Linked DNA regions of Homo sapiens. The protein of the gene in region 1 interacts with the protein of each later gene in a pairwise test. Each region holds a gene or a part of one and is shown on either strand. Other genes may lie near its edges.

Evidence for each region. Proteins that work in one complex are often made in the same cells at the same time.
Region 2: the proteins of PIP4P2 (region 1) and ZFYVE27 interact in binary tests that used the Homo sapiens proteins (3 or more experiments, as listed by UniProt).

Annotation. Positions count from the first base shown.
Region 1 is NC_000008.11:90,992,010-90,996,836, reverse strand, and holds the end of PIP4P2 (type 2 phosphatidylinositol 4,5-bisphosphate 4-phosphatase), read left to right. Parts: intron 1-92; coding exon 93-183; intron 184-1,016; coding exon 1,017-1,160; 3' UTR 1,161-3,035; downstream 3,036-4,827. UniProt on the Homo sapiens protein: Catalyzes the hydrolysis of phosphatidylinositol-4,5-bisphosphate (PtdIns-4,5-P2) to phosphatidylinositol-4-phosphate (PtdIns-4-P).
Region 2 is NC_000010.11:97,745,865-97,755,133, forward strand, and holds part of ZFYVE27 (protrudin), read left to right. Parts: intron 1-2,404; coding exon 2,405-2,500; intron 2,501-3,609; coding exon 3,610-3,722; intron 3,723-4,466; coding exon 4,467-4,606; intron 4,607-5,511; coding exon of another isoform or gene 5,512-5,526; coding exon 5,527-5,598; intron 5,599-6,992; coding exon 6,993-7,013; intron 7,014-7,173; coding exon 7,174-7,318; intron 7,319-8,862; coding exon of another isoform or gene 8,863-8,888; exon of another isoform or gene 8,889-9,269. UniProt on the Homo sapiens protein: Key regulator of RAB11-dependent vesicular trafficking during neurite extension through polarized membrane transport. Promotes axonal elongation and contributes to the establishment of neuronal cell polarity.

The sequences.
Region 1 (4,827 bases):
TTACTAAAGCCATAGATAAGAACTCACAAAAATGAAATAGAGAATTTTTATGTAAATACTTAATGTTCTCTTTTGCTTTCATGAATTTGCAGCTCCTCAGTGGGTAGTGCACTTCCACGAAGACGCTGCTGTGCATATATTACCATTGGAATGATATGTATTTTCATTGGAGTTGGGTTAACTGTGAGTGTTACACTTTGATGTTAGAATTCTGTCCTCTCAACTTTATCAGTAGTCAATCATGAGGCCTGGGACAACCTTCAGGGATTCCTGAAGAGGCTGCCTCCTTGGCATGCCAGCACTAGAAGCTTCTGAATGATTATGAGCAATCAGAAACCCAATCCATGGACCTCTTTTTGATTGAACTCGCCCATCCAAGTGAAACGGTGTCTTTTTACCTCCAAAAGTCCTTACTGTTGGGGATTTTATCATCTATTTAGCAAAAGCCCATTTAAAAAAAAATCAGTGCCAGAACTAATTTTTATGGCTATGGGGTCTCTTATTATTCAAAGCAATATTCATTCAGCTACAGAGATCTAAAAAAACCACTCTTCTCTTTATCCAAATCAAGCAGAGATTTATTACCAATATGAGGATGGCTTGTTTTTAGAGAAGACTGGAGCTAAGCAGTTAGCATGGGGATTATGCCAGAAGAGGAAGATAATCTCTTTGGCTGCCATTTCCATGCTCCTTTGTTTGTCAGTACAACTAGTCCCTTATTATTAGCAATGTCCTATTGTGTCCCATGATAGTAAGAAGTTACATGGATTAAATTCCTTGTAGAGATAATATAGTTTAGTGTGCTTTTTTGTTTACTTCATAACATTTATAGTTACTACAAGTAGCAGTATGGTCTATCAGTTGCAGTCAACAGATACACCTACTCTTATAAGGACTTTGTGTATTCGGTCTGGGGGTATATTTCATAACAATCACATGTAAGCTGATACAAGTTCCCTAAGCAGATATTTTTTAAAGTTTCTAATATTTTGTTTTTATATTGCTTTTTATTTTAGGTTGGCACCCCAGATTTTGCAAGGCGATTTCGAGCAACCTATGTTTCTTGGGCAATTGCTTATCTCCTAGGATTGATCTGCCTTATCCGAGCTTGTTATTGGGGAGCCATAAGAGTCAGTTATCCAGAACACAGTTTTGCATAAGCTTGTTTATGATTCAGTAATGCAGGTGAGAGTGTCTAGCAGTTCTTGGTAAGCTACTCTGGACATCTTTAAATTATTTATCCTAATGGATTCCATTCTGGTTTATGTATAATCGTTTCAAGACTTTGGGAGTCTTTTATGAACAAATGCTCATTGCACTATATTATATGCAAATTGTTTTGCTGCTAGGTTTTCAAAATTTGAATAATAAAGCCTTTTCATGTTCTTTTACATCTCTTATAGATATTTTTGGATTTGTTACCAAACATTACATTTACTCTCACCCTTTTATTATTTTTAAATAAGTTATTTCATTACTTGCTGATACATGAGTATTCCTAAGTGTTTATAAATATTTCTATAATAGTTTCACATTTATATTTACATTTTAATTAAACAGTATCAAAATTGCTTGCTTAAAACCTAAGCAATATGCATTTTGCTTGAACTGCTTACTGTAACTTTAACCTAAGATTATAGTGACCTTATTCAGGAAAAAAAAAAAAATTTAGTGTAACTTCAAAGACTTGACATTCTTGTCAGAGGAAAAAAAATTTCTAGATACTGTTTGCTTGTTTTTTGTTGTTTGTAGAAAGATAAAATATTTTGGTAGTAATTTAAAATACAAGAACGAATATTTATTTGTCCACAGTTGGAGATGTTGGATAAATGTCTTTTCTCAAAGATCACAGGACTTTTGTCTTTCATTTTTGCCTTTTTATTTACCATTTATAAAAGATCTGGTCTGGATTATGGAATTTAATGTTTATCAGCTCTATGTATTCCTTTATAGAGGCTTGAGGAAGTATTTCACATAACATGTTTTATAATACTTAACCATTTATCCAAAGATATATTTACATTGGGTTGTGCCCCTTTCCCTTAGATCATGGTAAATTTTTCTTATTGAGGTAATTATGTACTACTTATATTTGAAGGAAGCTTATGACATTTTACAGTAGCTAAAATGTTGAGATTAGAGGTACTTTTACTATTCTTCTCAAAGGTAACTGATCAGATAATTACCCAAATTATTCAAGAAAATAGATCAGAAATAAAGAACAACATAATTTTCTAAGAATTCATTGAAATTTATGGAATCAGCTCTCGCACTGCCCATCTTTGCAGTTTTGAAAAAGAAATTGCTTAATCACAAATGTTCTACAGTCTTTAAATGTAGTAGAATTAGACAGTGAGATCATCTGAGTAAATTGATTGGTGATTCCAGAGATAAGACTAATATTTTAAATTATTTATGATACTGATTAGTATAAAAACGTACTCATCACAGAATTTGAAGCAAAATACATGTACACTTCAAAGAGTAAATGACAAATGTATAAATGCTGTAGCTCAGGATTATATGTACCTTTAAAAATACACTAATAAAGATTATTGTTCAAAAATTACCTTGTTTTATTCCATTAAAAATAATGTCACTTCCAGAGTTGCCTTGAAATCTTGCTGTAAAGTTTTCATGTTTAGGAATGTACCTGTTTCTTTATATAATATTCATTTATGTTTTTTGTACTATTTTCAAATGGTTTTATTTTTAAAATATAGTTTTTAAATCCATTTGTAATACACTTGATGTTAGGTATAAAATAATCTTACTTCTTTTCCTAATGGTTAACTAGTTGTAACAGCATTGTATACTGAATAATCCATTCTTTCCCTCATTGATTGGAAAGCTCACATTAAATTATATGCTATGTCATATTCCTTCTGGAATAATAACTTTATGAGAGCAAGAACCCTGGTAGTCTTGTTCACAGCTTTATCCCCACTTAGAACAGTTCTTAGTGTACATGTGCTCAATTTACGTGAATGAATATGCATGAATGAATAAATGGTTGAATGAATTGCTATTTTAAATTCTTATATACACTTGAATATGTACTTTATATTTTGTACCAGAATGTATAGGTAAGTATTTGTATAACCTTGGGTTAAGAAAAAAACGTTCTAAGTAGAACTTAAAAGAAGAAATTATATAGGAAAGGATTGATACAATGAAACAACAACAACAAAATCCCCAAAATACTTCTGTATGATAAAAACCCTTAAGCAAAGCCAAAAGACAAACTGGTGAAGCTATTTTCAAAATAGGAGAAAGACTGTAATATCAGAAGGGACTAACGGTATGAAAAAGCAATTCACAAAATGACTACAATAGGTCATAAACTGTTTTTCGATTTTTCTTTTTTTTTAGACAGGGTCTCACTCTGTCACTTAGTCTGGAGTGCAGTGGTGTGATCTCGGCTCACTGCAGCTTCCACTCCCCTGGCTCAAGCCATCCTCCCACCTCAGCCTTCCAAGTAGCTGGGATCACAGCATGCGCCACTATGCTGGGCTTTTTTTTTTTTTTTTTTTTTTGGATTTTTTGTAGAGATGGGGTTTCGCTATGTTGCCTAGGCTGGTCTGGAACTCCTAAGCTCAAGCGATATGCCCAGCTCGCCCCCCGAAAGTGCTGGGATTACAGGTGTGAGTCACCGCACCCAGATCCCAATTTTCTAATATTTGAAGAATGTAAGTTAAAACAAAGAGATACTATTTTTCACTTACCATATTAACAAAGAAGTAGAAATTACAATAATACCCCTGTAATGCTGAGGACATTGGAAACACACACACACACACGCACACACACACACCACATATTCTTTGATCTAGTAATTCTCTAAGAATTTATCCTAAAGGTATTGTCAATTTTCTAATAAAGAGTAAAAATATAGTCCAATAATCCAATAACATGAGATTGATGAAATAAATTATGGCACACCTATACAATGAAATAGCAGACAATCAAGAATATGACAAAAAATTTCATCTATTGAATTGGAAATGGCTCGCAAATTGTGTGATACATAGAATATGATCCACATTTTAGAAAATGTATTTTATGTGTACATACTGAAAAAAACTAAGGAAAATAAACCAAAAATATTAGGAGTGGTTATCTCTGGGTGAAGAGAGAGAAATTATTTTTACTTTATTTTTGAACTAGATTGTTGGAAAGTAGGTTTTACTCTTGATGAATAGATAATAGTAGTATATGATGATTACATCAATATTTGTTAATTTTCATTTTGATTCTTGAAAAGTTTTAAAATGAGTTTATTAAAATCCAAACCAATGACGGTCATTGATAAAACCTTAAGCTTTAAAGTCAGAGAATATATATTTAAGCTTAGCCCTATGTGAGTTACCTAAAATTTTTAATTAATTAAATTCAAATTTATGAAACTTTATACTCAGTGTTGTCTTTTGTTATTTTGTTTTGTTTTGCTTTTTTAAGTAGAGCATGTCTTCCAGTGCCTAGGGAGCATAGAAAATAACTGGGAAGAGGTTATTTGAAAGAATACACCATAGCCATGAATCAGAAAAGGAATGATGTGTTTGTCCCTTGCTGTTCAAAGTAGCAAAAATTGCCTTAGTTCTTCTTAGAAAAGAGAAAAATGGCACCATGACCAGGTATTCTTGAACAAGTCATTTGTGAGTACATATATGTTATTTTAGAAGAAAAAAGGAAACTTGATATGTGCCAAGTAGAGTGCTAACCTCACAATACATGCTGTTTAAATATTCACAAGAACCTAGGAAGCAAGTACAGCATTCTTGTTTCTATTTTACCAGAGGAAATTGAACTGCTGCTCCCACAGATCTG
Region 2 (9,269 bases), on another chromosome or scaffold:
CTGCATTCTCTTGAAATAGAATAGGGGCAAGAAAAGTTATAAACAAACAGATGGCTGGGCCTCACCCCAGAAATTCCGAGTCAGTTATCTGGAGTGGGGCCTGGATATGTAGTTTTTTTAAAAAAGACTTTCTTACTTTGAAATAGTTTTATATATATATACACATATATATATATATATATATATATTTTTTTTTTTTTTTGAGACAGAGTCTTGTTATGTAACCCAGGCTGAAATGCAGTGGCGTGATCTCGGCTCACTGCAACCTCTGCCTCCTGTGTTCAGGCGATTCTCGTGCCTCAGCCTCCAGAGTAGCTGGGATTACAGGCATGTGCCACCATGTCCAGCTAATTTTTGTATTTTTAGTAGAGATGAGGTTTCATCATGTTGGCCAGGCTGGTCTCGAACTTCAGCCTCAGGTGATCTGCCTGCCTTGGCCTCCCAAAGTGCTGGGATTGCAGGCATGAGCCACCGCACCCAGCCTGAAATAGTTTTAAACTTAAAGAAGTACAGGAATAATACCAAGAATGCCTTTTACCCAGATAGAACAATTATTAACATTTTGCCATGTTGGCTTCGTCTATCTCTCTACATATACATATTCTTTTCTTTTTCCTAAACCATTTGAAAGTAAGTTGCAAACGTGACTTAATACTTCAGCGTGTATTTCCTAAGAACAAGGACATTCTCTTAAATATCCACAGAGCTGTAATCAAAATTAGGAAACTTAACGTTGATAACTAATGTATAATTCGTAATCGGATTTTACCAGTTGTATTAATAAAGTTCTTTTTCTTCTTTTATTAATTTTTTTCCTTTTTTCTTTTTTTTTTTTTACTTTTTGAGACGGAGTTTTGCTCTGTCATCCAGGCTGGAATGCAGTGGCATGATCATGGCTCACTGCAGCCTCAACCTCCTGGACTCAAGTGATCCTTCTGCCTCAGCCTCCTGAGTAGCTGGGACCACAGGCACATGCACCATACCCTGCTAATTAAAACAATTTTTTTGTAGAGATAGGGTCTCATTGTCTTGCCCAGGCTGGCCTTGAATTCCTGGGCTCTAGCAATCCTCCTGCTTCAGCCTCCCAAAGTGCTGGGACTACAGGTGTGAGCCAGTGTGGGTGTCCTAATAAAGTTCTTTGTATCAGTTTCCCTGATCTGGGATCCAATTCAGGATTATACATCATGTTTAATTTTTTTATGTCTCTTTAGTCTTCTTTAATCTGGAGCAGTTCCTCAGTCCTTGTTTCTTGTGACCTTGACATTTTTGAATAGTACAAGCTTATTATTTTGTAGAATCTCCCTAATTTTTGGATTGTTTGGTTCCTTGTGATCAGATTTAGAGTGTGACAAGTGATGTGTCATGTTCAGTACATCCGTATCAGGAGGCACCTGATGTCAGGAAATACTGACTTTGATCACTTGGTTAAGGCATCCATACTGTAAATTATCATTTTACTCTTCATTAGTAGTAATTTGAGGGGAGATACTTTGAGACTATGTAAATATCTTGTTCCTCATCAAACATTTATCCACTGCTTTAAAAATCCATTGATGGGTCTTGCCTTAATCAGTTTATTACTATGATGGTTGCAAAGATGATCTTCTAATTATTCTATCGACATTTTTTTAGCTGGCTTTCTACTATAAGGAAGCTCTTTCTTACTATTATCAGTATGAACTCATAGATTTATATTTTATTTGATGAGTTAGAATCTATTACTATCATTATTTATTTTGATCTCAAATTGTCCTAGATTTGGCCAGTAGGAGCTCTTTTGAGTTGGCTCTTGTTTGCATTGGTCCCTGTCATTTTTGAATGCTTCCTTTATGGTACAACAGGATGGTCAAATTCATCTTATACTTCCCTGCCCCAGCCCTGGAATCAGCTTATCTCCATGTTTCCTGGTTTCCCTTCAGAAACCCAGATCTGGGTTCAGATTGTGCTCATGGCTTCTGTGGTTCATCCATGTTTAAAAAAACAACAACCAGAACTCCCCAAGTGAGTCTGTTTCACATCCCAGGTAGAGAATATCATGCCATTTATTCTGACAGCTGCTGTGTACCCGTGAGGTGGGTCCTCTGATCCTCATTTTATAGATAAAGAAGCCACAGCCCTGGAGAATTTCAGTAGCCTGCCTGACATCAACAGTTAGAAGACCAAAGCAGGAACATTTATACTGTTTCCACCTCAGCAAGAGGCTCCAAAAAGGGGACTGAAATGTAGCTGGGGTGGCTTAGCCAGGCCTGTTTCTCCCATGCTCTCTCGACTCCTCTCTCTTTAAGCACATGGTGAGTGTGTTTAAAGAGATTGACCATCCCTAGCCAACTGTACCTGCAAGGCCCCAGGCTCCACTTCCCAGGGCTTCTGTCCTGCCCACTCACCAAAGCCCCTGTGTCTGTAGCTTGATCCAGCTGGAGGCCTTCCTGAGCCGCCTGTGCTGCACATGTGAAGCCGCCTACCGCGTGCTGCACTGGGAGAACCCCGTCGTGTCCTCACAGTGAGTGACCCCTCCTCTCCCGCCACCACCCTATAGGAATTTGCAGCTTGAGCCCGAGCAAAGCCAGCTGCCTTGAGAGGACCTCTGCCCCTCTTACCTCAGGGGAAGAGCTCGCCTCCTGGGCTCTTGTGTGTATATCTGCACATATGCTTGCGGGCTCTAATGTACTGCTTTTGTTTAGATGCTTGCTTTTATGTGTGGTAAAAATAATAATAGAAAAATAACTCACCATATAATCCACCATGCAGCCGAATCTCTTGTTTGTTTTGCCTGCTAGAATTTGTCACATGCATCTACTTTACGGATGTATAGTTTCATAGTGTATGTTCAATTTTTCTTTTGTTTTCCACTTATCATTATATTAAAGATGATTTTCTTTGTTGCTATATAGCTTTTGGAATTATTTATAATACCAGATTAATATAGATGGCAAATATAATTTGTGAAACCATTCTGTTACAGATTTAGTCAATTTCCCTTTTCATTACTAACCCCATGGTAAACATTTTTATGGATTTAGCTTTAATGTTTTAGAAAATTTTTCTTGGAGTAAATTCAAGGATGAAACTACCATATCAAACAGAATGGGTGTTTTTGAGGCTCTTTAATATGAATAATAGTGATAACTAATGTTTGTTGTGTTCACCTGGTGCCAGGCACTGCTCAACACTCCCTCTGTATTATCTCACTCTTATAGTAACTCTATTAGGTAGGCGCTACTTCAGTCCCCATCTTACACGGGAAGGGAGCTGTGCCCAGAGAACCAAGAGACTTCTCAGAATGAGAAGTGGCAGAGCTGGATTCAAATCCCAGTCTGTCTTACTCTAGACTTCAGAGTCTAGACCTTAAGGAGTGATGATGGTTGAACCAGTTTATGTGCCACCAGCTGACACCACTTTGGCCTCACCAGCATCAGGTGTTTGCACCGGTGACTTGGGATAGTTCTCAGTCTTCATCGCCATTTTCCGCTGGTTTGATGAGCGGCTCTTGTCAGTTTATTAATGTGCCCAGAGCTGTGTCTCACCTGGACCCTGCTGTGGGTGTGCTCCAAACCCGTCTCCTTCTGCTGTTACGAATTTCTGATCTTGTGGTTCTTCCCTGTCATCCAGGTTCTATGGGGCTCTTCTGGGCACAGTCTGCATGCTGTATTTGCTGCCACTCTGCTGGGTTCTCACCCTTTTAAACAGCACGCTCTTTCTGGGGAATGTGGAGTTCTTCCGAGGTAAGCCCTGAAGGGCCTGAAAGATGGGGCCCAAGCTGGCTCTGAGGGCTAGGCTAGGCTCCCCAGTTCTTCTGTCTCTACAGCTAATCATCAGTTTGCTGTGCTTCCACAAGTGCAACACCACACTGGGGTCCTCTCTCATGGGCTCTGCATCTCTGAGATGTTAGATGAAGCTGGAATCTCACCAGGGGAGGCTGCTACCATTGGGCTCCCATCTCCCTTCGCTCCCTTCCCAAGGCAGATGAATCACTGCTTATATGATATGATGGCTTCTGGAAGATGAGGGAAGGATGTTTTTCCCAAAGCTGCCACCCATCCCCTGGGGTGCAGCCACCTGGAGTTGCTACCACATCTCTGTGTGATCCCAGAATACCCCTCTGTTGTCTGGCTTCTAAAGCGCTGAGGCAGTCTGGAGAGGCACTGAGTCGCAGAGGCCCGAGTCTGTACATATGTTTGGGTGATTGCTGTATTTGTTTTCCTCCCTGTGGTAGAGTTATTTATTACAGAAGCCATGATTTATTGAGCATTTACTACATTTAATCTCTGTAGCTGTCTGGGGCAGGTGGTGGTATCTAAGTTTTGTTTAAGAGGCTTAAGTTAGGTGACTCGCTCAGAGTTAGGAGGGTGACTCTTTCCTGTAGTGAAGGGAAGAGAGGCCAGCCAGCTGCAGAAGTGGGTACCCCTAAAGTGCCACTCACGGTGTCTCATTTTTGCCTCCTACCTTGTTCTCCATTCCCTGGGTAGTTGTGTCTGAGTACAGGGCATCTCTGCAGCAGAGGATGAACCCAAAGCAGGAAGAGCATGCCTTTGAGAGTCCTCCACCACCAGATGTTGGGGGGAAGGATGGTCTGATGGACAGCACGCCTGCCCTCACACCCACGGAGGTAAGTGCCACTGTCAGGGCAGAGCCTGCTGTGGCCGCTTGTGGGCCCCCCTGTTATCAGCTTGTTTTTGGCTCCTGGGCTGGCCTCTGTTGTAGTTCCTGCTATTTCCCAGGCCTTAACTCCCCTGAAGTGTTCAATAATAATAATTGTAATAAAAACAGCTACTCCATGCTTCACTGAGTGCTTACCCTGTGTCAGATGCTGCTCCAAGTGCTTTATAGATAGATATTCACATCATGGAGTGCAGGTTCTTTCTTTCCTTTTCTTTTTTTTTTTTCCTTTTTTTTTGAGATAAGGCCTCCCTCTGTCACCCAGGCTAGAGGGCAGTGGGGCAATCACAGCTCACTACAACCTCCATCTCCTGGGCTCAGGCAGTCCTCCCACCTCAGCCTCTTGGGTAGCTGGGACTGCAGGCAGGTGCCACCACGCCCAGCTAATTTTTTTGTATTTTTAGTAAAGATGAGGTTTTGCCATGTTGCCCAGGCTGGTCTCAAACTCCTGGGCTCAAGTGATGTGCCTGCCTCGGCCTCCCAAAGTGCTGGGATTACAGGCGTGAGCCACTGCACCAGGCTGGTTATTTCTGAGAAAGAGATCATTCTCATTTGTGGAAGAGAAGGCTGAGGCACAGAGTGGCTGGTAAGTGGCAGGGCTGGGTCTAAGACCCCAGCCCTGTGGTTCTAGAGCTCGTGCCTTCAACCACTGTGCGATGTGGCCACTGTAGGGCCAGCTGTGCTCGTGTTTCCATCTCCCCCGCCCTGCCAGGCTAGAGGTTGCTCCTTCCTGTGAGTTCCTTCTTTCTTGCCATTGTGCCATTTCGTGGTGTTTTGGGTAGCCTGGATGCTGGCTTGGGGAGGTGGTCCTCTGCCTTAGGGAGCAGCGCTGCCATCCTTCTCCTTCTGTCATAGAGTCTCTCTTCCCAGGACCTCACACCGGGCAGCGTGGAGGAGGCTGAGGAGGCTGAGCCAGATGAAGAGTTTAAAGATGCGATTGAGGTGGGTGGCCCTTCCCCAGCATCCTCTACTCAGCAGGCCAGAAATTGGGTGGTCCTGGAGCTGTTTTTTGTTTTTGTTTTTTAATGTCCAAGTGAGAAGCTAAAACTTGCTGTGAGCTAGAACTCACTGGTTGAAAGAGTGCCACTGAACCCCTCCCCACTCCTGTTTCTGGTTGAGCCAGCTGTCCTGGGTGCCCAGGGCAAGAGTGGCTCTGGAAGTCTCCGGGTAATGCCCTGCTAGGGGAGCTGGACGATTTCTGGCCTTTGCTGGAGACCGTGGGCTTGGTGCCTTTGATATAGGAAAGGCAGCTTTTGAGGAGGCTACTGCCCTGGGTCTCCGCTCTTCTGCAGAGTGAGTTCCGTAAGATGTCCCTTTGCGGGGCTGGGAGGGGAGGTTGGAGAAAGTAGTTGCATGGCCAAGTGCTAGGTCAGAGGAAGTTAAACAGCTTTCTTGATTTTAGGATGGTAATTCAAATTGGTAGTTTGCAGAAGTGTTTTATTTGGCATGCAAAGTTTCAAAATAATTTTTTGAGCCAATGTTTAAATATGGAGAGATTTTTATTAGAACTGCAGGTTTCCAGTTTCTCTGGTAGTCCTGAGTCTGCAGCAGTAGGTGTAGCTAAGGAGCTGCTGTCCCCTTTACGCAGGTCACATGCTGTGGCTACAGGTGGTCCTCAACACCCCCTGCTGTATTTTGTCACTGAGGTCAAGTGGGAGTTGCCATTTGTCACATTTGCGTTTTTGTTTTTCTTAGAGTAGGATATCATTTCTCTTTATTTATTTCTCTTTGTAAAGTGGGAAATTGAGATATAAGAAAAACACCTCGTGGATTTCCACCAGGCCTGTGATTTACCCCAACTCACCTCAATCATACATCAGCCCAGGCCATGCAGGCATTTGACTTTCTGATGGCTAAAAGATTGCTCCAAAACTTTGATATATGATTGTAGACCGTGAATCTTGGTGGAGGGAATATGTAGAGCAGGGGTTTTCAAGCATTTTTGTTCATGACCCATAGTAAGGAACACATTTTGCATCTTGACCCAGGTCACACTTAGGTCTATAAAATATGTAAAACTTAAGTGAAACAAAAGTTTCCGGAAAATACGTTGTAAGGGATATTTTCTTTCCTTTTCTGTTCTATTCAAATAAAGACCTACTAAATTATTTTCACCCAGTTTGAGAAACTGTAGTACCTAGCTTTCTCCAAGGCTGTTTGATGCTGGGATCCTCTTGTGGGGGGCGTCTGTCAATGTCACCATTTGGGAAGTGCGCAGAGCTCAGAGCAGCGCTTCCATGCTTCCTTCTGCTTGGGGGCCCCTCCAGGTAGCTTCTTTCTTCTTGCTATCTTTTTCTTTCTGTTTTCTCTCCTCTTCCCCGCACCTTGGGAGGCAGGAGACCCACTTGGTGGTGCTGGTAAGTGGAAGCCTTGGTGGGTGGGCAGGGGCTGGGCTGGGGAGGGTGGCTGAACCGGCTGCTGCCACACCTCGTGGGGGCTGCCGCGCAGGATGCCTCTGCACACGGGTCCTGCAGCCTTGCAAGAGGTGGGCAGGACTGGAAGGAGCTGTTCCCACAGGAGGATGATGAGGGCGCCCCGTGCCCAGCAGAGGATGAGCTGGCCCTGCAGGACAACGGGTTCCTGAGCAAGAATGAGGTGCTGCGCAGCAAGGTGTCTCGGCTCACGGAGCGGCTCCGCAAGCGCTACCCCACCAACAACTTCGGTGCGGCCAGGGGACAGGGCTGGGCTGGTGGGGGAGTGGGGGTGGACTTCTGGGACTCTAGTGGGGAACACCCAGCCACAGGGGCAGAGTCTCAGAACTGTGGGTACTGACTTGTGACAAGAGCAGGGAGTGAAGGTGTGTCCGCGGGACCCCGGGGAGCTAGCAGATGCCCGGCAGGACTGCTGAGGGAGTGGGTGTGGGTTCCTTCTTGTCCCTCCATCCTGATTGGACATTCAGTTGTGGGAAGACAAGGAACTCAGTTTGGGAAATGCCATCCCAGGACTGTAGAGAACCATAATCCTGACAGAACTTCAGAAGGCAGTGTAGCATGATGGTGAGGAACAGAGTAGAGTCTCACTGCCTGCTGCAAATCCCAGCTCAGCCAGGTGTCCTTGAGCAAATTATTTCACACCCCGTGCCTCAGTTTCCCCTTCTGTAAAAGGGGGATCATCATTCTTACCTCATAGGGTTGTTACAGGTCTCATGTCAAATGAGACAGTAGTACTTACGAAGGGCTAGCACAGTGCTGGTTGGTTCATAGTAAGTAGTGGGTGCGGTTAATGTGGGAGGCCCTGACCCACGCTGTGGGTTCCTAGGATCCTGTCTTGGTCTTTCTTATCCAGCTGGAAGCAAGTTGAAGCAAACATTGTTTCTCTGGACGTGATAGAGCCCTGAGTTCACCTCTCCCCAGCCAGTCCTTATTTTACTGAGGGTCGGGGGAGAGCGGTCAAGGAAGGCAGCTTTGGAGAAGGGTGGACTTGACAGCACAGCTTAGAGACCTGGCTCAGATCAGCAGCGCTGAGAGCTGAGCCACATACAATTATGGTGGAAACCTAGAGTAGCTAGGTTGACCTGGGAGCTGCTGTGCTCCTGAGGAAGGGCCCTCCTGCCTGCTGTCAGATGGGAGCAGGGTAAGGGGGCAGTACTGTGTGTTCTGGTGTTGAGTGAGTTCTAGGGTCTGTGCCCTGGAAGAAGACAATGGAGTTTATCTTGAGGAATTTGACTCAGGGCCCCCAGGGTCCTGCCTTCCTACCCCTGCAGCAGCCAGGGCAGTTGTTTTCTCAGGATTAGATGTCCTGGACAGGCTCTTTCTTTCTGCTGTGTGAATGTCCCCCAGTTATTCAAGATCCCTTTTTTTTTTTTTTTTTGAGACAAGGTCTCACTGTGTCTCCCAGGCTGGAGTGCAGTGGCATGATCACAGCTCACTGCATCCTCGACTTCCTGGGCTCAAGTGATCCTCACAGCTCAGCCTCCCGAGTAGCTGGGACTACAGGCATGTAGCACCATGCCTGGCTAATTTTTGAATTTTTTTTGTAGAGACAGGGTCTTACTTTGTTCCTCAGGCTGGTCTTGAACTCTTGGGTTTAAGTGATTCTTGTACCTTGGTCTTCCAAAGTGTTAGGATTACAAGTGTGAGCCACCACGCCCGGCCCCTTTGTTTTATTTATGCTGCCTGCTGACTTCTGCAGGGCATTCTGTATGTTCAGTGATCTGTTTACCCTCCATACTTGCACATGTGTGATCTCATTTCATCCTTACCGTAGGTGTGACAGGAGCAGGCAGTTCTTAAGGGTTCAGAGCAGCCAGATTCCAGCAGTGCCCGGTAACACTACACACAAGAAGTATTACTCTGGTCCAGCAAATAATTTGTCTATTTCTACAACTTCTAAGTAAAGGTACTTAGCTGTTCCCATTTTACAGATGAATAACCTGAGGTAAAAAGAGTGCTTTGCCCAGAGACTTTGGCCTGGAAATGGTGGAGCTGTGACTCAAATTCAGGTTGTCTGATTCGGCTCTTGTCTTCTTTCTACCTCTTCATCCTCCCTCTCTGTTTTCCCTTTGCCCTTGCGTGTGAAGTCCCTTGTTTTATGCCTGTCCCGCTTTTGTATTTGATTTTTGGTTTGGATAATCTCTACCAGCATGGGCAGAGGCCTTTTCAGCCTCCCTCAAG